Regions from separate parts of the Homo sapiens genome. Here regions 2, 3 and 4 are each linked to region 1. Evidence: fine-mapped expression QTL. A gene starts in region 1. Each other region holds a variant in brackets. All regions are shown on one strand. Distances are from middle to middle.

Region 1 (5,228 bases):
TTTCACAAAATCCCCAGGCAGTTCTTATGCACATTAAAGTGTCAGTAACATTGGTTGAAGACTATTTCTCTATTTTAAGAGGAGAAAAAGAAAGTTTAAGAACCATTTCTAACACTTTCATCACCTTTTCCCATTATCTGCCATGAGTGAATCTTAGTCTTTAACTGTTAGTTTCTAACAAGTATAAAAAGGAACTGATAATACTCATTTTCAAAGTGTAAATTTGTCTCTACTCTGAATGTGAAGCTTAAAACCTGCTGCTAAGGTGCAAGAACCTATTCAAGTTGCTTTTTATTTGCTTCTATTGTGTTGGAAGGAAGAAAGGGAGAGAATGATCCCTGCAATTGCCACCTGTTGAATATTAGCATCAGTAAGCATGAGCTCCTTTCAGGAACAGTCTAGATGTTATGACTCCATCCACCTGGCTAGAGACTCCTGGCTTCTACAAGCTTTTTTTTTTTTTTTTTTTTTTAACCACCCCCATCCCCTTCCCTTCCCCTCCTAGCTCTTCTTTTTTTAATTATCGGAGTTGTCCTAAATAATTTCAAATGTCATGGAGATAAGTGAAAGCTTTAAATATTAAAGACAGACCAGTACCTCATCAAGGAAAGCAGATACATGTCCAAGAGACAACGCAGGTAACTCTCCAAATAAAACCACTTGAGAAAAGTCATTTACTCCAATGCTTTCAGTAATCTTCTTGGAAATAAAAACAAGTTTATGGTTTGCATCTCTTGGAATCTAAAACAAGAGCAAGATAATTAGTTCAAGTAGTTTTCTTGTTAACAAGCAGGATTTACTATATCCAACTTGTAGCTGTATTGCTAGCAGAAGAAACAAAACCTGGCATCTTGCCTGCCCTATAAACAAGGTCCTTCTACGGCTCTTCCCTAGTATGCAGCGAGTATACAGTTTTCTTTGTTCTTTTATAATGCTAATTTCACAGCATTACTGGTGTGGAAATATCACCTTTTAAAGGCATGCCAATTATACCAGTTCATTATACACCAAAAAAAAAATCTTATAACTAAAAACAAATAAGGAGCACGTAGGCATGTAGAAATGTTTCAATCCTAAAGGGTTATTTTTTATACTCTTCTCTGGTTTGGAAATAAGCCAAACTGAGATAAAGACAAGCCCAAGAGGTTAATTTGTATTTCTATCAAAGAATAGAACCGTATAACCAAAACATGCTAACATTTCCACAACTACTGAGTCATTCCATTGAACATTATAATAACTATTTAACTTAGGTAATACTAGAGTTGTGTTCTATCGCCTTGTCTACTGACAAACTTATTTTTTTTAAAGTTACAATTAGGAGAGTCCTAAAACAAAAGAATTCAAAATTCACAATACCATAAGGCAGCCTTCCTATTACTCTTTCTTCTCTGAGATCCTATTTCCCAACTATTACAATGACCACACCTAGTGATAAAACGACATAACATGTTAAACTGAGCATTGCGCTACTTAAAAATTGTGAATCTTGCTCCAAACTCATCATACTTGAAAAATACTAAATACAAGTGCTGTACGTTAGGTGATACGTTAACCTTTTAGTGGACAAATCATCGAAATTCAAAAAGAAAAGGAAGAAAAAGAAGAAAGGAGGGAACTGTTCCCTCTAAATGTTCAGTAAACACCCATGTGTGCGGAGATTGCAGGGGCCTTCCTTTTTAAGGACTTAATGTTTTTGCCTGGGGTGAAGTGTTGTTGGCACGTAATCAAAATACGTGACGAGTTACATGCGCTCTGCCAAACACCCCATTTTTTAAAGGATGTGACTCCAGAGTGACCCAAGAGCAACTGAAACGCAAGTTTTTTGGCACAGAAAGCCCACCTGGCGCCTAACACCCAAGCAGCTAAAGAAAGCGCTGGTGTTCTTGGGTTATCCTGGTCGAACAGGCTCAACGCGGGATTCTCGGTCAGATACAAACTGCTGACTTAGGAAACTAACCTGCAGCTGCTGAACTGCAGAGTGGGTGCACGTGGGGAGGAGTCCTGCGGGCCTCAGGATGGGGACTTCAAGCCAAGTTTGTTAAAGTGCCCGAGTGAGCGCCCCGCGGGAATCCAAAGGGGAGCGACTGGGCTGTCTCCCCTGGGTAGTTTTGTTGGATGGGCAGGTCCCCTTGCCCGTCGCCTCTTACCTCCTGGGAAGCCGCAAGGCGCCCCGAGGCGGCGAAGCTAAACACAAGGCAAGCCGGGCTGGTGCTTTCCAGAAACTCCCCAAGAACCTGCCGGTTGTCCTCGCTTTCCAAATACTGGCTCCATTTCTCCTCCGTGAACCCCAGCATCATCGCCAGGCGGCCGCCGAGGAAGCGCACCCGCGCGTCTTGGGCGAAACTCCGCGCTCTCCTGGCCGCCGCCTCCTCCTCGTTCTCCTCCTCCTCCTCGAGCTCCACAGCGCCCACTGCCTCCAGGCCGGCCCCCGAGGTTAGGCGAAGGGTCGGGGCTTCTCTGAAGTCTCGCGCCTCCCGGGCTGCCACCTGGGCTGCCATTGGGCAACCGTCCGAGGGAACGCGAGGCCGGCTGGCTCCTCACCCGAGACTCTGGGCCCCCCGAAGTGAGCGAGGACACCTCCGCAGGCGCCCACCCTCCTCCGCGGTCGCCGCGAGCGCAGACCCTAGTCTCCCACCTGCTGCTACTTAGCAGCCGCGCCACTGCGCACAGCTGTAGCCTCGCAGGCCGAAGCGAAGGCCTGGGACAAGCAGCGCGTCCCGTTTCCCGGGGGACGGTGTCCCCGCCCCAGCCCGCTGGGGGCGGAGTGAGCGCACCGCGCCACCGCCCAGTATACGCCAAGGCCAAGGCCGAGGGGAGAGGCCCTCGGGCTCTAGGTCCCGAACACGGCCGAGAAGCCGCGTGTCCGGGGTGGGTCTGAGCCCCCAGTGCGCTCGCTCCACTGCCCTCCGGCTCCTTCGCCTACTGGACACTTGGTGGAGATCCCAGCATTGGTTAAGTGCTCTGGATGAAGCAATGCTCTCTTGTGCCAAGGTCCGTGCTAATCTCTTACCTTGACTAGTTGACATAATCCGTAGAAAGCCAAGTCTCTGACTGGTCAGTCTTTGTTTTATGGGCAAGGAACTAAGTTACAAAAATAAGTAACAGAGAAGTTTCGGGGCCCAAGTTGAAGGCTGTTATTCACCTTTCCCAAGGTGTCCAAATATTACCAGAAGAGAGCCAGTCCTGCAATTCAACTTTCCTAGTTGTGGGAATCCAAGATCTAAGTATTCGAAGTCCTCCTGATTGCCATCCTCAACCTGAAACTTACTGGAACTTCAGTACACCCAGTAAGAGAACGCACAGTGCCCTTTCGTGATCTCCAAAATGTTCCGAAAATCTATAGATTTATCATTTAATTCAAGAGTAAAAAGGTCAAAGAGAAAAAGCTTCAGATTAAAAACAGTTTCATGATACTGAAATAGGATTTCACTGCGGTCCATTAGTGGCTTTCGTTGAGACTCTTATGGAAATTCTAATTATTAAAGCAACCAGAATTTTGAGGAGGAGTCCTCAACTAAACTTTTAAGTCTCCTTTGTTAATTGTTTATTTCAAACTAAAGTCTTCAATCCCCACCCCTTCCATGGGGGCTACTGAAGGACTGTTGCCCACAATAATCCATTTAATACCTGAATGTTGACAGACATTTCCAGAAGATGAGGCTTCAACAATTTTTTTCTTTGCAGGATATTAACTGCCCCTGAAAACCATCGACAAGTTTCCAGTTATGTGATCAGAATCTTGAAATAACACAGGGCCTTGGAAAACTTTGATAATGACTTCTAACCTGTCAAGGCTGCTTTATATTGTCCATAATAATCTTTGGGGCTCCCAGTTGCTGGTATACAAGGCTGGCAATCACCAGTTCCTTCTCTCCCCTCTTATATTCCAGCTTCACATCCCTGTAACCTAGAAAACCGGGAATTCTGTAAATAATAGTTGAATTAAATTGAAAGTGAATAACCACTTTCAAATCTAGCAGGAAAATTTTTTAAATGATGCTAACTTTAAAGTGCAATTTCCAAAAAGTTAACTATGTAACTCGAAATATAAGATGAAGATATGTCAAAGATTGATTTAACTCATAAATGAGGAAAGCAACAAAATGATGTAAGTTCCAAGGACAGTTCGAGAAAGAAATTTAGCAGCATTGGAGGAAGACAGGATGAGTCAGCTTGCTAGGTTCAAAACAACACTCACTAATGTCATACAGGGCAAAATAATCCTTTGTTTTTTAAAAAATAATTTGTTTTTCCAAAATAAATTACATCTGTATTGAACAAAAATCTGTAAATAAAAACGTAACTTCAGAGTTTGAGACTTCGATCAGTAGTAGTTAATGAGTCCAAAAAAGATACTTTTCCCTAAATAATTAATAATCCTTTCATTGGCCGGTGAAGCAGTGTTTCAATGTGACAGTGAATGAACATGGCTTTACCTTGTTCCCAAGTTTTATGTATTTTTTCTCAATAATAATAGCTAACATTGATCAAGTACCAATTATGTGCCATGTGCTGTGCTGAGTTCATTCATTTGTCTAACAAATCTTTACTGAATGCCTACTAAGTGCCAAGCACTGTTCTAGGTGCTGGGAAATATAACAGAAAACAAAACAGATTAAGTTTCTACCCTCATATTGGAGATACAGGCTAGATTTCTACTGAATAGAGTGGAGCTATACCAACTGAATTTGCATTCCATTTCTATTTTCTAGGTGCCTGAGTTTCCTCACCAGAAATAGGAAAAAAAAAATGGTAGATGAGACTATTTTTTAGCAAATATCTCTCCCCCAACCCCACCTTCATGAAAAGAGTATGCTTATACCTTTTTGTGCTATTAAAGTTGTGGCTGGCCATGTGACTTGCTTTGGTCCATAGGATATTGGCAGACATAACAAACAGAGGCATCGCTTCTTTTGGCTAAGATCAAGTGTAGTAGCAAACAGATGCTTGGAATGTCTTTGCATGGTGAGGCTTGCCTTCTTGTGCCTCTGCCACTGTCTTGAGAAGAACATCCCTAGTTAGCTTGCTAATGCAGGGAACCAGCCTGGACCCGACTTTTGTAGCTCAGAGGCAAGTCCAGCGAAGGCTAGTCTTGATCAATCTACTCTCAGTCAGCCCACAGATGCATGAAAATAATGAATGATTATTGGTTTTAAGCTACATAGTTGTGGTGAGGTTTGTTATGTAGTGATAGTATGGTAATAGTAAATGATACACCACATCAT
Region 2 (5,000 bases), 50 kb before region 1:
AATGTGTAGAATAATCTTTAACGTGTCTTTCTTTCGTGCTCCACATCCAGTCTTTGGGAAACTCTGTTTGCTCCACTTAATTCAAAATATATCCAGAATCCAACTACTTCTAATCACTTTCACTGCTACCACCCTGGTCCAGCACCATCATCTGTTACGTGCCTGTGCCACTGTCTGAATGCTTATGTCCTCCCAAAATTTGAATGTGAAAATCCCAACCCCCAAGGGGATGGTATTATGAGGAGGGGTTTAGGAGGAGGTGATTAGGTCCTGAGGGCAGAGCCTTCATGAATGAAAGTACTGCCTATATGAAACAGGCCCAGGGGAACTTCCTCCATGTGAGGACACAATGAGAAGTTGGCAGTCTGCAACCTAGAAGAGGGGCCTTGCCAGAAACTGATCATGCTGGCACCTGGTCCTCCAGAACTATGAGATAACCATTTCTGCTGTTTTAAAGCTACTCAGTTTAGAGTATTTTGCTATATCAGCCTGAACATACGGAACCCCTAGATTACTAGTAAGAATGGCAACCTACCAGGTCGGCCTGCCTCTTCCCTAGCCTCCCTACAGAGGGTCTCAACACAACAGCCAGAAATCCTTTTAGAATGAAAGTCAGATTGTATTTACTCCCCTTCTCAAAATCTCAAAATTCTGCAGTGTCTTTCACATACCTCAGAGTGAGCCAAAGCCAGAATCTGCAAAAAGGCCTATGAAGCCTCCCCTGAGCTGCCAGTCCCTCACCACGCAGCTTAGCGTCTGACCTCACCTCAGCAACTCTCCACTCAGCTCCCTCTACTCCCCCCACACTTACTTCCCTGCTCCTCCTCGAGCATGCCCAGGGATCTCCTGCCCCAAAACTATCTCCTCTGCCTGGAACACTCTTCACCAAAGGCCCACTTGGCTGACTCTATCACCTCTGTCAAGTCTTTGTTCAAATTTCACCTTCTGGTTGAGGCCTACTCTGATCATCCTACTTAAAACTGCATCCTCGACCCCACCCTCCAGAATTCCCTTGCCCTGCTCCAATTTGATCTTTTTCCTGCAGCGCGTACCAGTTCTAACACAGCACGACTTACTATGTCACTGCTTATTGTCTCTCTCCTCACTTGATTCAAGTTCCATGAGAGCAAGGAACTTTGTCTGCTCTGCTCTCATATTTCAAAAACCTAGAAAGGTGCTGGGTACACACAATGCTCACAATAAATATTTCTCAAATAAGTGAATGATGATGGACTGCAAAGACAAGATACATAATGGGTTGCATACAATTCCCAGCAGGAAAACCGTAATCTATTTCTTGTTCTGCTGAGAATTATCCTAGAGACAAGGACCTTCATTTTACACATGAGAAAATTCAGGCCCAGCCTCTGGAAGACTCTGGTTTCCAGCCTTTACCAAGGACACTTTCCCTACCCCACACTGTGCTACTTCATGATGGCTTCAGAGTGTGTGTGTGTGTGTGTGTGTGTGTGTGTGTGTGTATGTGTGTATGAAAGAGTGTGCATGAGGGAGAAAGAGTGTGTGTGAGTGTGTGTGTGATATGTGAGAGGAAGAGACTGTGTGTGAGAGTATGTGACATACAGAGAAAAAGAGTATGTGTGTGTGAAAGAGAGTGTGTGTGTGTTAGAGAGAGAGAGATTTTGTGTCTGGGGGGAGCAGGGGCAGGGGAGGGGGTCTGTCTGCCTTGCCCAAAGGAGAGTATTCATGGATTAAGGACTGTGCTGGTCTATAGAGAAGACTCCACATAACAAGGATGCTCAGAGGAAACATGAAATACGCTCTTTCATTCCTATCCCTTTTTTCCTTAAGAAATAGTAACAACAAGAAATCAACTCCCCATGTTCCCATCATCAGCATTGCACATCTGTGAGCACCACATTCCTATCTTTGCCTTCCCTCCATCCTGTACTACAGATGAATGCTCCGCGCTCCTGTCTAAAGACACCTTCTACAGGTATTTACTAAATCCCATT[TC/C]CCTCAATGGCTTTCTTCCAACAATTTTTTCTCCTTCCTAGATTACTGCAGTTAACATACAAACATCCTGAAACATCAACCACTATTAAAAATAAAACCCTCCCCACCCTGATACACAGGCCCCAGGTACTGCCCAGTTGTTGGTTTGCCACACAGCAGAGCTCCTCAGGATCTCCTCAGCTGCCTCCACTCATATTTCCCCATTCTCTCATCAGCCCACTCCCACCAAGCTTCCACTCTGCCACCACATGAAATCACCTCTCCTCATCCCAATGACTTCCGTGCTGCCAGATCTGAGGGTTAGCCTCCGTCTTTATTTTCAGGTCCTACGTCAGGATGGGACAGAGTTGAGCTCTTCCTCCTCCTTGAAATCCCTTCTATTATTGGTTTCCAGGGCATCACTCTCTCTTTTTCAGTATCCTCTGTGGGATTTTCCTCTTCTCCCTGACCTAGGGAGGACTTCGAGGCTAGTTTTTGGGCCTCTTTTCTATCTACAATTCCCACATGTTCTTAATCTAATTATATGGCTCTAAATACCATACATATGTGCATAAATCTCAATTCTCTGTTACTTACCTGGATTTTGCCCTGAACACAAGACACATTTGCAATTCTAGTCTACTCAAAATGTCCCTTAGGACAAGCATCTCTAACTAACTTGTCCAAAACCAAACCTCCTTTTTTTTTCTGCTACAAAATCTGCTCACCACAGTCTTCCTCATATCATTAAAGGGCAACCCCAGTCCAGTCCAATCACTCAGACCAAAAACCTTGAAATCATCCTTGACTTCTCTCTCCTCTGATTCCTCAAAGCAAATTCTGCTGGCTCTGCCATCAAAATATCTGCAGGATATGAACTGCCTTGATCACTAGCACTATGACCCAAGGCAGCATCATTTCTCACCTGGATTATTAGCATAGGCTCTGAAGAGTCTCCCTGCCAACCACTTCTTTGCTTGCCTGTGGCTTACCCTCCACAGGGAAAGCCTTTGAGCAGAAAGTCTCTGGCTGCTCTTTCCCCTTACGGTAAAATCCAAAGTCCTCATAACAGCCTGCTAACCCCACATAATGTACCATTAGTCTCTTCTACCTCACCCTCTACTACCACTCCCCTTGCAAATTCTGATCTCAGTTTGCTGACTGATCCTGGAACAGGCCAGGCTGCTCCTGCCTCAAAGTGTCTATACTTTTGCTCTCCAGAATGTTCTTCTCCTGATATCCATATGCTTTGTTCCCTGTCAGTTCTCTGCAGAAATACTATCTTAGGAAAGAGGCCTGCCCAACCACCCTACCCGCAAGCGACTCCCTATCCCACCTGCTCTGCTCTATTTTTCATCATTGCTCCTATTACAACTGACATATCTATTTGTTCTTTTCTCTTGCTAACTTCCTCTGACTAGAGTGTAAGCTCCATGAAATAAAGGATTTGGTGGTGGTTGGCAGGGGAGCATTGTGTTGTTTGCTTTTATTTTCCTGCCTTCTGCCTTTTGTGTGTGTGTGTGTGTTTTTTTTCTGTTTTCTCTTGCATTCACAAGCCTAGATGAGTGCCTGTTACTGTTTTAGGAACTCAAATCTTTGTTAAAAGGAGAGTAATTATTGTTGCCACCCTTAGGAGATGGTTGAGAGGGTACCTTGAGATGACCTAAGGAAGTTGTTTGTTTGGCACATACGAGGCAGTCAACAAACAGTGGTAGCTATAAGGAGCATCCAAAAGAGGATGCAACTGTGACAAGATAAAGATTCTATCACTAGCCTTTCTGTTTAATCAACACATCTCACATTCTAATCTCTTCCCTCAGGAATGACAGTGGTGAGGGCTACAGAAATTGCAGGCAAGTAACACAAATTCCTCCACTTTAAATGCCTAATAATACCATTCATAAAGCTCTTTCAGGCTTGATAAAAGAGTCCCACATTATTAGGTTAAAGATTTTTGCTCTTCTCTGAACTCAATGAAAAGATCTATAAATCTTGAAAGGTTAAAAGCCATTACCTCGACCAAGTTGTGGATCTTGCAGCCATCTCCTTGGATTAACTTGTATTTTTTTGTAAACAAATCACCCTTGTCCTCCAAGGTGAAGGCTGCCTCTCGTCTGTGCTCTCTCCTGGGAGGTAGCACGCACCTGGCCCAGCCCCTCATGGTCTGCTGGATCACCTTCACGTTTTTCTGTGTGCGCTCAACTCTGTGCTCCAACTCGGACGTGGCTGCCCTCACCCTCTCGATGTAGCCCCAGCAGTCATCCTGCCATGTCAGCCACGTTGTGGCTGCTGTCAGCTGCTCGTCAATAGCCCTCAGCTCATCTTCAATCAGAGGGTATTCAACTTCCAGGAGCGTCTGTTTGAGTTTATTATACCCTTGCACAAGAAGGTCAAGATTTCCAATGTACTGAGCAAAGAAAACCCCAAAACAAAAAGTGCCAAATATGTTAGCTATTTTCTCTGTCTTAAAGGTGTAAAAATATCATATAGATCTATATAATAATTAAAATTCAAAATATTTATATTCATAATAGGCCCTAGTATCTTTTTTTTAACAAAAATCACAAACCTTTAAAATAGTGTTCCTTTTCTTGAAGATGGCTAAAGCTGAATCTGGTATGTCTTGTTTCTTCAACATCAAAAGATATTTCACTTCTCTCAATACAGCCACTAGCTATTAAAATACAATTATTAAAATTATTGCATATTTTCATAATGTCATTCTATTTTAACTCAAGTTTAACTTGAAATACTTAAGATGTTATCCAAGTATTACTATATTTCCAAATCAAGGTAAATAGACTTTTGTTTCATATACTTTTTAAAAACAAAAATCATACATTCATAATATAGTAAAGGTATATGAATTATCCTTAAACATCTCAAGAAATTAGTTTCTATAAATTGGTTTTATGAAATCAGAAAGTAGAACGAATCCTCAGTTAACTATGTCATATATTTAGGTATGTGTGCTGAGTTTTACTAGCAAAATAAAGTCAACTATTCTCTGTACATATTTTAGGGAAACAGATCAGAATTTGGGTGCA
Region 3 (5,000 bases), 31 kb before region 1:
TTTTCTCAGATACTGTTATTTTATTTCAGAAATAAGTAGTAACACACATAGACACATTTCTCTTTCTGCCTGCCCAGAAAACCACTACCCCAAAGTAAGTTTCAATCTTTCCCATGTGTGTTTTCACACTTTTGTTATAAACATCATAATATATATACATAAGTGTGCATTGAACACTTTGTTTTTACATTTCCTTGAAATACACTTAAGAATTCTGTCTTTCTTAATTGCTTACAGCACAAAGACCAGGTCTTCACGAGTAAGCTGAAATACAGCATTGACACTGATATTAGGCTAATTTATGCCCACAAAATGCTTTGGCCTAAAATATTCTGAGAAGCAAGGAGAACATCTGTCTTACTTCAAAAGAGCTGTTTATAAGCACAATCTCCCACTTACTTGCTTGATAGGGTCTTGGCTTAAGCCCTAGAAAGGATCAAACATATTATCCATACCCTCTATCAGAGTTTACATCTTTCAAGAGAGTCTTGAGTCAGTATTAAGATCTTCTGGGATCTCAGATCTTGGCTTCCTTTTATCTCCTCTCCCCTACAACCCCAAGAACAGTCCCTTAAACCAACTTGGTGCTTCCTTTCTGGGCTTCCTGCAATAGACATTTTCAAGGGTTGTTTGTGGCCGCCGTGCTTGCTGAGGCCTTTCAGGCAGGCAAGGAAGACACAACCTTGGAATATGTATCAATCCTGTACAAGATGAATCGCTGTCCTTCTTGGGTAATTAACTTCCTGCCAAGCAGCTGTTTGGTCTCCTCAAGGGATAATACCATGGTGGAGCCTCAGAGTCAATCTCCATCGCTGGCAGGTAGGATACTCAGCAGCAACAAGATCTAGAGGAGTCTCGGTGACAGGTGAGCCATGCTACTGTATAACGGCCAGTGTTTTAGTTGCACTTACTGGGAGCAGTAGGGAAAAGTACATCTCCCTCTTTCCAGAAGCAGAAGTTTCTCATTAAAATTTTAAACAATGATATCTACTAAATGACATTTTAAAATAAATAAGATAAACTTTAGTATATAAATCTGATGGAATGCGCAGTTGTTTTAAGATGAGCAATGCTATTGTAGTGACACAGAATGACTGCCAAAATATAGTAAGGGATAAAAGCAAGGTATAAATGCTATTAATGCAAAAGCAGAAAACAAAGGAATAAATATATGTATATGCCAGTGCATGCACCAAATATCTCTGGAACATCATATAAGAAATTTTTAATAGAGATGCCTTTGGGGAGGAAAAATGGAAGACTAGGGAAAAGGCCATAGGGTGAGAAGAAAGGGACTAAGTTTTTACAGATGTTACCTTTCCAAAAGAATTACTAAGGAAGGTTGCTAAATAACTCATTTAATCTTGAATAATAGGCAGGCAAAACATGAAAATGCTGTGTATGACTAATAAAGATGAAATCTGTTTAATTAAAATGAGAAAACACTACATAAATAGCAAAAGAATAGTTCAGTGAGTGACAGCAGAACAATAGACTCGTTCTAGGAATTAGAATACAACCTAGTACAGATGAACTAAATAACTACTTTTAAAATGTATTTTAGATTCTGATATCATGGTGAACAAGGCACCTGAATAAAGCTTCCCACTGAAAATCAGCAGAAAAGCAGACACAGCAACCTGGATCACTCCATCTCAGGCCATAGGTCCTCAGGTGAGTTCCCACAGATGAACTTATTCCTTTCATTTCAATGAGGATGCAACAAGCAAGATAAATACTAACAGGGTGGTGCAGTGAAAAGAATGCAGGGGCTGGGCATGGTGGCTCATGCCTGTAATCCCAGCACTTTTGGAGGCCGAGGCAGGTGGATCACTTGAGGCCAGGAGTTTAAGACCAGCCTGGCCAACATGGTGGAAAACCCCATCTCTATTAAAAATACAAAAGTTAGTTGGGCATGGTGGCACACTCCTGTAATCCCAGCTACTCAGAAGGCTGAGGCAGGAGAATCACTTGAACCTGGGAGGCAGAGGTTGCAGTGAGCTGAGATCATGCCACTGCACTCCAACTTGGGTGACAGAGTGAAACTGTCTCAAAAAAAAAAAAAAAAAAAAAAAAAAAGCCCAGTGCAGTGGCTCACGCCTGTAATCTCCTCAGCACTTTGGGAGGCCAAGGAGGGTGGATCATCTGAGGTCGGGAGTTTGAGACCAACCCGGCCAACATGGCGAAACCCCATCTCTACTAAAAGTACAAAAAAATTACCTGGGCGTGGTGGTGTGCCCCTGTAATCCCAGCTACTCAGGAGGCTGAGGCAGAAGAATCACTTGAAGCCAGGAGGCAGAGGTTGCAGTGAGCTAAGATCGCACCATTGCACTCCAGCCTGGGCGACAGAGTGAGACTCTGTCTTAAAAAAAAAAAAAAAAAGGAAGGAAGGGAGGGAGGGAGGGAGGGAAAACAAAAGTATGCAGGGCTTGTGGTTGAGAGTTCTGGATTCAAACTTCCATTCCACCAACTGGAAACTATAATCTCAGGTAATTTAGTGAAACTGTCATTTGCCTGCGGGACCACTCTCTGGGTTATAGTGAAAATTAAGCAGGTATATAATGTGGGAAATCTCTGGCACAACGCCTGGCATCCAGTACTTCGTCCATAAATATTAACTGGCTCTCATTAACAGAGACTAAGTGGAGCCAAGGGGTTACCCTCAACAAGAATAGCTACCATCTTTGCTTAGGTATCTGAGGGATTTCATCAAGAAACACCA[C/T]AGAAAGACAGCAAAATTACTGAGTCTAATATTGCTGGACTAACTGTTCAACATTAATAATGAAGAAAGCAAGTCTCTTCCCATAACTGTCTAGATTTCAAACAGTCCCCTAAGAAGATGTCAAAGAAAACACCTAAAGTAACATTCAATAATTGAGAAACCCAAAACCATTTTTATGGGCACACCTGATAAAATCCCCACATTCTGTAAATGGACCACGGCAGCAAACCTTTCGGTACGCCAATAAAGGCTCAAAGCCTGATTAGTAGGCATGAGATTGATGAGAAGAGAAATAAACAACAGCATTTCAAAAAGCAAATTACCAGTGATCATTTCTTTAATTTACTGGAACATATTTAAACCATGTATATACCAAAGGGCAGAATGGCTGACCCTGACACACTTCCCTGTTATATAAGCACTAGTTTGTAGTCAGAGGGGATGGGGCAGGAGCAGGAACATGGGGGTGAATGCAATGGGAGGGGAAGGGCAGAGGTTGGGCATGTATTCATATGTACATGCAAATATATGCATACACTAGGTTGGAAGTCATTTGTTAAAATAATGTCTCAAAAACTACCAACTGATTTCATCATGAAGTCAAAGTACAAGGAACTCAGCTAAAAAGCACCAAAATGAACAGCTTATTAAGCAAAAATATATGATAAATGCAATATTTTAAAGTAATAATGATAGGCAAAACACATTTTTTTAAAAAAGTAATGGTCATTTTCAACATAAGTATGCTGATTAAGTTAACTTTTAGTTAATTCATGTTTTAATTTTAGGGAATGACCAAAGTCAAGGAGCTTCTAGATTCTAAGGCAAGAATCAGACAGGAGGATGAAGGGAACTTCAGGGGAAGGTTATGATGTCTCCAACCAGACCGAAGATCAGAGGTAAACCCTGCCCACCTTATCTGCAAAATAGAATAGGCTTCCAAAATACAAATACCAAGCAGATATATACCTCAAGAGTAAATGAATTTTCTATTCCTACATGTTTGTGACTATGCAGGCTTTAGGCAGAGACAGGAGTAAAATCAGGACCTTTGGCATGGCCAAGGTAGTGACGTCAATTAAACCTGGCCACATTCTCTAATTCTGGCACTCTGAAAACTTGCCAGTTTTTGTAATTATAACAAAATCAAGACTCTCTTGCAATCCAAATGTCCCCAAGGATCTTGTGCAGGCTCAGTCTCACACTCCTCCTCCACTAGCTCGTTCAGCGGCGCTAACCTAGAGGCTCTCTTAAGAATCCCATTCTGTACGTATTTATTGAATGCCTTCCAAGTGCCAGGCATCTTACAAGGCTTTGGGGATGAGCTCACTCAAATTATTCATCACCATGATCCTAGGTTCCTCATACTTTTTCACAAAGTGTAGTGCCCTGGTTTAGCAAAAAGTCACCTATTACAGCAGTGTCCTTCTACCATTAACTCCACTTTCCAAAACTGACTATAATTCAGAGGGCTTAAGTTTGCTAACTACATCCTTATAAAGCTAACATACTGCACTCGTACACTTCAAAGAATCAATTGTTTGGCCAAATATAAACAATAGTGAATAAACTCACATTACATATACAATAATAAGAACAAGAGCTAAATCTTCATTCTTTTGGACTTGGGCTTCGCTGTTCTTGGCAAACTACTAAAATGAAGCTATTTTTATCCTAGAACTGCAGGGATGCTCACAGGTAGCTCCCTGGCTACTAACATGCTGGAACTGACAGAGCACAGAAGCAGCTTAAATCAGAAAGGTTCCCCCTTTCCTGTGGTTGGAAATATGAAATTATAATCAGCTCTCAAGAATAACAAAAATTATAAGAAACAACCAACATGTAAATGATACACTTAATGACTGGGGTGAAAGCAAGTGTTCAGGTGAATCAAAAAACAAAACATCCAGTGATTCAAGAAAATGCTAAAATAAAGCACGAGTTACATGGACATCAGATCAAAATGAATTCATGTGGAAAGTTTCTGTTTAGCATACACAAACAAGATACAAATCCAGACTGAGGTCTGCAGTTTTATCAGCCGTCATTCTGAACTGAAAATGCAAAAGCTTAAGTTCTGATCCCTGATCTACTAACTAAGTAGCTACAAGACTTCAGGCAAGTCATGTAACCTCTTTTGGTCCTAGAGATATTGGAATGGATGGTCCCTATTATCACTGTGACCTATCTTCCTTTTCAGCTATAAAATTATAGGATCCCATGCAATGAAAATGCAAAGGTACAACATTACCATGTTAGTGCAATCAGATGGGTCATA
Region 4 (5,000 bases), 77 kb before region 1:
TTTCTTTGTATCCTCTTTTATTTCATTGAGCAGTGGTTTGTAGTTCTCCTTGAAGAGGTCCTTCACATCCCTTGTAAGTTGGATTCCTAGGTATTTTATTCTCTTTGAAGCAATTGTGAATGGGAGTTCACTCAGGATTTGGCTCTCTGTTTGTCTGTTATTGGTGTATAAGAATGCTTGTGATTTTTGTACGTTGATTTTGTATCCTGAGACTTTGCTGAAGTTGCTTATCAGCTTAAGGAGATTTTGGGCTGAGACAATGGGGTTTTCTAGATATACAATCATGTCATCTGCAAACAGGGACAATTTGACTTCCTCTTTTCCTAATTGAATACCCTTTATTTCCTTCTCCTGCCAAAATGCCCTGGTCAGAACTTCCAACACTATGTTGAATAGGAGTGGTGAGAGAGGGCATCCCTGTCTCGTGCCAGTTTTCAAAGGGAATGCTTCCAGTTTTCGCCCATTCAGTATGATATTGGCTGTGGGTTTGTCATAGATAGCTCTTATTATTTTGAGATACGTCCCATCAATACCTAATTTATTGAGTTTTAGCATGAAGGTTGTTGAATTTTGTCAAAGGCCTTTTCTGCATCTATTGAGATAATCATGTGGTTTTTGTCTTTGGTTCTGTTTATATGCTGGATTACATTTATTGATTTGTGTGTATTGAACCAGCCTTGCATCCCAGGGATGAAGCCCACTTGATCCTGGTGGATAAGCTTTTTGATGTGCTGCTGGATTCAGTTTGCCAGTATTTTACTGAGGATTTTTGCATCAATGTTCATCAAGGATATTGGTCTAAAATTCTCTTTTTTGGTTGTGTCTCTGCCCGGCTTTGGTATCAGGATGATGCTGGCCTCATAAAATGAGTTAGGGAGGATTTCCTCTTTTTCTATTGATTGGAATAGTTTCAGAAGGAATGGTACCAGTTCCTCCTTGTACCTCTGGTAGAATTCGGCTGTGAATCCATCTGGTCCTGGACTCTTTTTGGTTGGTAAGCTATTGATTATTGCCACAATTTCGGAGCCTGTTATTGGTCTATTCAGAGAGTCAACTTCTTCCTGGTTTAGTCTTGGGAGGGTGTATGTGTCGAGGAATTTATCCATTTCTTCTAGATTTTCTAGTTTATTTGCATAGAGGTGTTTGTAGTATTCTCTGATGGTAGTTTGTATTCAACTCTTGTGGAAGTCAGTGTGGCGATTCCTCAGGGATCTAGAACTAGAAATACCATTTGACCCAGCCATCCCATTACTGGGTATACACCCAAAGGATTATAAATCATGCTGCTATAAAGACACATGCACACGTATGTTTATTGTGGCACTATTCACAACAGCAAAGACTTGGAACCAACCCAAATGTCCAACGAGGATAGACTGGATTAAGCAAATGTGGCACAGATACACCATGGAATACTATGCAGCCATAAAAAATGATGAGTTCATGTCCTTTGTAGGGACATGGATGAAATTGGAAATCATCATTCTCAGTAAACTATCACAAGAACAAAAAACCAAACACCGCATATTCTCACTCATAGGTGGGAATTGAACAATGAGAACACATGGACACAGGAAGGGGAACATCACACTCTGGGGACTGTTGTGGGGTGGGGGGAGGGGGGAGGGATAGCTTTAGGAGATATACCTAATGCTAAATGACGAGTTAATGGGTGCAGCACACCAGCATGGCACATGTATACATATGTAACTAACCTGCACATTGTGCGCGTGTACCCTAAAACTTAAAGTATAATAGTAAAATTTAAAAAAAAGAATAAAATCCTGGTTTGCAACAACATGGATGACCCTAAAGGACAGTGCTAAGCAAAATAAGCCAGGAACAAAAAGACAAATATTGTACGATGCCATCTACACGTGGAATCTAAAAAAGTTGAACTCATAGAAACAGAGAGTAGAATGATGGTTACCAGAGCCGGGGGGAGGGGGCAAGAGGAGCTGTTGATCAAAGGGTACAAATTTTCAGTTAGACAGGAGGAATAAGCTTTAGTGATCTATTGCACAGTTGGTGACTACAATAAATAATAATGCATTGTATGTTTCAAAATTCCTAAAGGAGATTTTAAGTGATTCACCACAAAAAAAATGTTAAGTGTATGAGATGACGGTTAGCCTGATTTAATCTTTCCACATTGTAAACATACATCAAAACATCACATGGTACCCTATATATACAATTATTTGTCAAATAAAAATAAAATGAAAAATATATGCAATAAAAATATCCATCTTACTTGGTTGTGCTCTAGAGTTTCAAAAAGTTGTTCATCAGACTTTAGTAATGG[A/G]ATGCCTGTTCGATAGTGAACTTCGTAAGAAAACTTCATGGTTGCCCAGGTCTGACTGATTTCAGTAATAACCTAGTAATCAACAATATAATTAATGTGCACAAAATTTAATTGATAATCAATATGTAGACTATTATCTGGAATTAATTTTTTTCAACTTTCAAAAATGCAAACTGATATCAAGTATTATTGGCTTGAGTTTTTTCCTCCAAGTAATTCATGCTAATGGGGTTTGAAGAATGAATTTTATCACATCAAAGGTATGAGCATCACACTAACATCAAACTTCTACTGAATGTGAGTTTATCATCCCTAACCAAAACACAATTCAAGAGCAGGAAGGGACTTAAATGTTTGGTAGATACTATTTACAAATTAGCCAGCATGAAACAGGTAATGCCTCAAATGTGAATGAATCTCAGTCTTCTGTGTGAATCTGGGTAAGTTAATTATCTCTTTATACCTCAGTTTCCCCATGTGTAAAATAGAGATACTATTACTTACCTCAGAAGATTAAATGGGTTAATATAAATAAAGCACTCAGAGTGGTGTTGGCTACAAAATAAAGGATATGTAAGTATTTTCTGCTATAATCATCATCATCAACAAGACCAATCCTCCTGTTTTACTGTGGCTTAGAATGATTCTAGTTCCTGCTCATCCCACACCTAATGAACAGCAGGGAACAAACTGGGACTCATCTCTCCAGGCTCCCAGGACATCAAAAGGACTTTTCTCTAAGTTGGCTTCTATGCAAATACCCAAAATTAGCCAAGTAGAAATGACCCAGTCCCGAGGACACTACCTTCTCAGTCCCCAGCTCTTTCACCGCCTTGTCCACAATCCTTCGGACATCATCTTCCACTCTGTGTAACCGCAGTGCTAACAAATCTGCCAAAGTTGTGGCTTCATTTATTAAAAACTTGACCTGATTGGGGGAAAAAAAGTTAGACTTTATATTCCACATATATGAACGGTTCCTTTTGCCTAAAGGCTGGTGAAATGAATCTTAACTAAAATATACTCAAGTCAGGTGCTGAGTACATCTCTCGTCTTGAAATACGTGGAGAATCTAAGACACTCCTTTTTAACTCACAATTCCTGAGGCGTCACCTGCCGGAAGCAAGGGCCACAGTTTAGTCACATCCGTGCTACACTATTTTCTTTGTTTCACATCTTTCCCTTGTCGGCACGTTTCTTATCTCCTTTGCCCACAAAACCCATTTTTAAAGAGAATCTCATTGTTCATTTATTATAATTTGGTTGAAATCCCAGGAATCAGGTAGTGGCTCATTTGTCTTTTCTTCCTAAAGAACCCTATTCACTGAACATAATTCCCAGCTGCTTCTGTGATTTAACCTAGTTTTATCACTAATTTAATCTCAGTTCATTGGCAAAAAAAATAGTCTTACAGTGTCATTATTCATATTTACCATGTGAAAAATAATTCTCATTTCCACATTGTCTTGTGACAATGACTCCCCTTCTCTCACATTGACTCTCCTTCCCTCCCCTATATTGGGTCCTTGAGACATCCTCAGCTCTTCGACATACCCAAACTCACTCATGTCTCCTGTAAGTGAAGAGTTGAGCCAGCCATATGGGTTGCAGGAAAGCCATTTTCTTTCCGGCTTTTGCTAAGAATATCCAGAATCTGCTTCTTGGAAGCTGCCACCCTCTGCCCCTCCCTACCCTCTAACATTCCTTAGCACCATCCACGCCTCTGCATAAGAGGACCAAATGCCCTGATTTGCTCCGGACTGAGGGGTTTCTAGCAAGTGGATTTCAGGGATGTGATACTTTCAGTGCTAAAATCTGGAAAGTCCTGAGAAAGCTAGATGAGTTTGCCAGACTATCTCTGTGTCAACTTTGGCCTCACTCCAGAGTTGCTGGGAGCCAGGGAGCTAGGTCTGTCCTTGAGAAAGAATGAGGAGAGATGAGTAATAGGGCCACCCTGATTAGTTGTGCAATCTGTGTACTGAACGTGGACACCAGCCCAGATGACAAATGGAGATGGAAGCCAGCCTCCGCTCTGCTGTCCTGGGGACAGCCTGGAGGAGGGTGCCTTTTTCTAAATTGTTGGTCGGATCAGGCGACTTTTTCTAGACAGCAAAAAGGCATAACACAGCAAGTAGAGGCTATGCTGAGGGGGGTCTTTTCATAAATTACACTTCATCTCAGATGATGCAAACCAAGAAGTAACACTTCACAGTCATAAAAAGGTTCATTAGTGAGACCAAGGATACTGACCCCAATAGCTTTCATCAGCTGGTGCCAATGCCTGTCCCTGAGGGCAGGGCTCTGTAACTCTGTGATGGCCCTCAGGGAGGCTGTCATGTCCTTAACTGTGCCTTCCAGGCCCGTGTAAGCATCCCAGACGCGGACTTCCTTGTTGAGTGACCAAATTTCCTAAAGAAAAGTGGAGGAAAAAACCTAGCTCCCAAGATATAACACAGTATATATTAATAATTTGCCTCCTTTGACATATATTTCCCAACTCCTGGATTAGAAAAGAGTGAAAGCATTTGAACTCCTAGACCAAGGAGCAAAACCAGAGAAACGAAAAGGGATCCACTCATTTGTACATTACAAGCCCACTCCGTACAAGCCACTTGTATACACTGCTTTCTCATTCACAAGATCTAACTGAATGTCCCATGAGGAAACACAGGTAAGTAACAGAGTTCACAGGACA

Which allele goes with the higher level. Positions count from the first base shown, and alleles are read on the strand shown. Sizes are in standard deviations (SD) of each study's normalised expression. Not every link is listed here.
With allele C in place of TC in region 2, the expression in esophagus muscle of the gene that starts at base 2,708 in region 1 is lower (small effect, 0.38 SD a copy in GTEx).
With allele C in place of T in region 3, the expression in liver of the gene that starts at base 2,708 in region 1 is lower (large effect, 0.82 SD a copy in GTEx).

Evidence for each region. PIP is the estimated chance that this variant, and not a neighbour inherited with it, causes the effect. A credible set is the group of variants that fine-mapping cannot tell apart.
Region 2: its variant is the best candidate, but not a certain one, in a credible set for the expression of DNAH11 in esophagus muscle (GTEx, PIP 0.84).
Region 3: its variant is the best candidate, but not a certain one, in a credible set for the expression of DNAH11 in liver (GTEx, PIP 0.88).
Region 4: its variant is the best candidate, but not a certain one, in a credible set for the expression of DNAH11 in aorta (GTEx, PIP 0.54).

The regions. Positions count from the first base shown.
Region 1 is chr7:21,540,519-21,545,746 of GRCh38, reverse strand. It overlaps DNAH11 (dynein axonemal heavy chain 11), which reads right to left and starts at 2,708. Exons shown (of 82, transcript NM_001277115.2): 1 at 2,151-2,708; 2 at 598-741. The coding sequence starts at 2,501. RefSeq lists enhancers at 1-552, 2,885-3,386 and a silencer at 2,787-2,836.
Region 2 is chr7:21,590,545-21,595,544 of GRCh38, reverse strand. It overlaps DNAH11 (dynein axonemal heavy chain 11), which reads right to left. Exons shown (of 82, transcript NM_001277115.2): 13 at 4,523-4,627; 14 at 3,968-4,360. Among named protein-coding and RNA genes, the nearest start is that of DNAH11, 50 kb to the right of the region's middle. The variant TC/C (reference allele first, on the strand shown) is at 1,974.
Region 3 is chr7:21,571,947-21,576,946 of GRCh38, reverse strand. DNAH11 (dynein axonemal heavy chain 11) reads right to left here. Exons shown (of 82, transcript NM_001277115.2): 8 at 4,974-5,000. LOC105375183 (a long non-coding RNA gene) reads left to right here and starts at 805. Exons shown (of 4, transcript XR_007060247.1): 1 at 805-865; 2 at 1,565-1,674; 3 at 3,511-3,621. The variant C/T (reference allele first, on the strand shown) is at 2,723.
Region 4 is chr7:21,617,333-21,622,332 of GRCh38, reverse strand. It overlaps DNAH11 (dynein axonemal heavy chain 11), which reads right to left. Exons shown (of 82, transcript NM_001277115.2): 23 at 4,556-4,714; 24 at 3,111-3,233; 25 at 2,255-2,377. Among named protein-coding and RNA genes, the nearest start is that of DNAH11, 77 kb to the right of the region's middle. The variant A/G (reference allele first, on the strand shown) is at 2,306.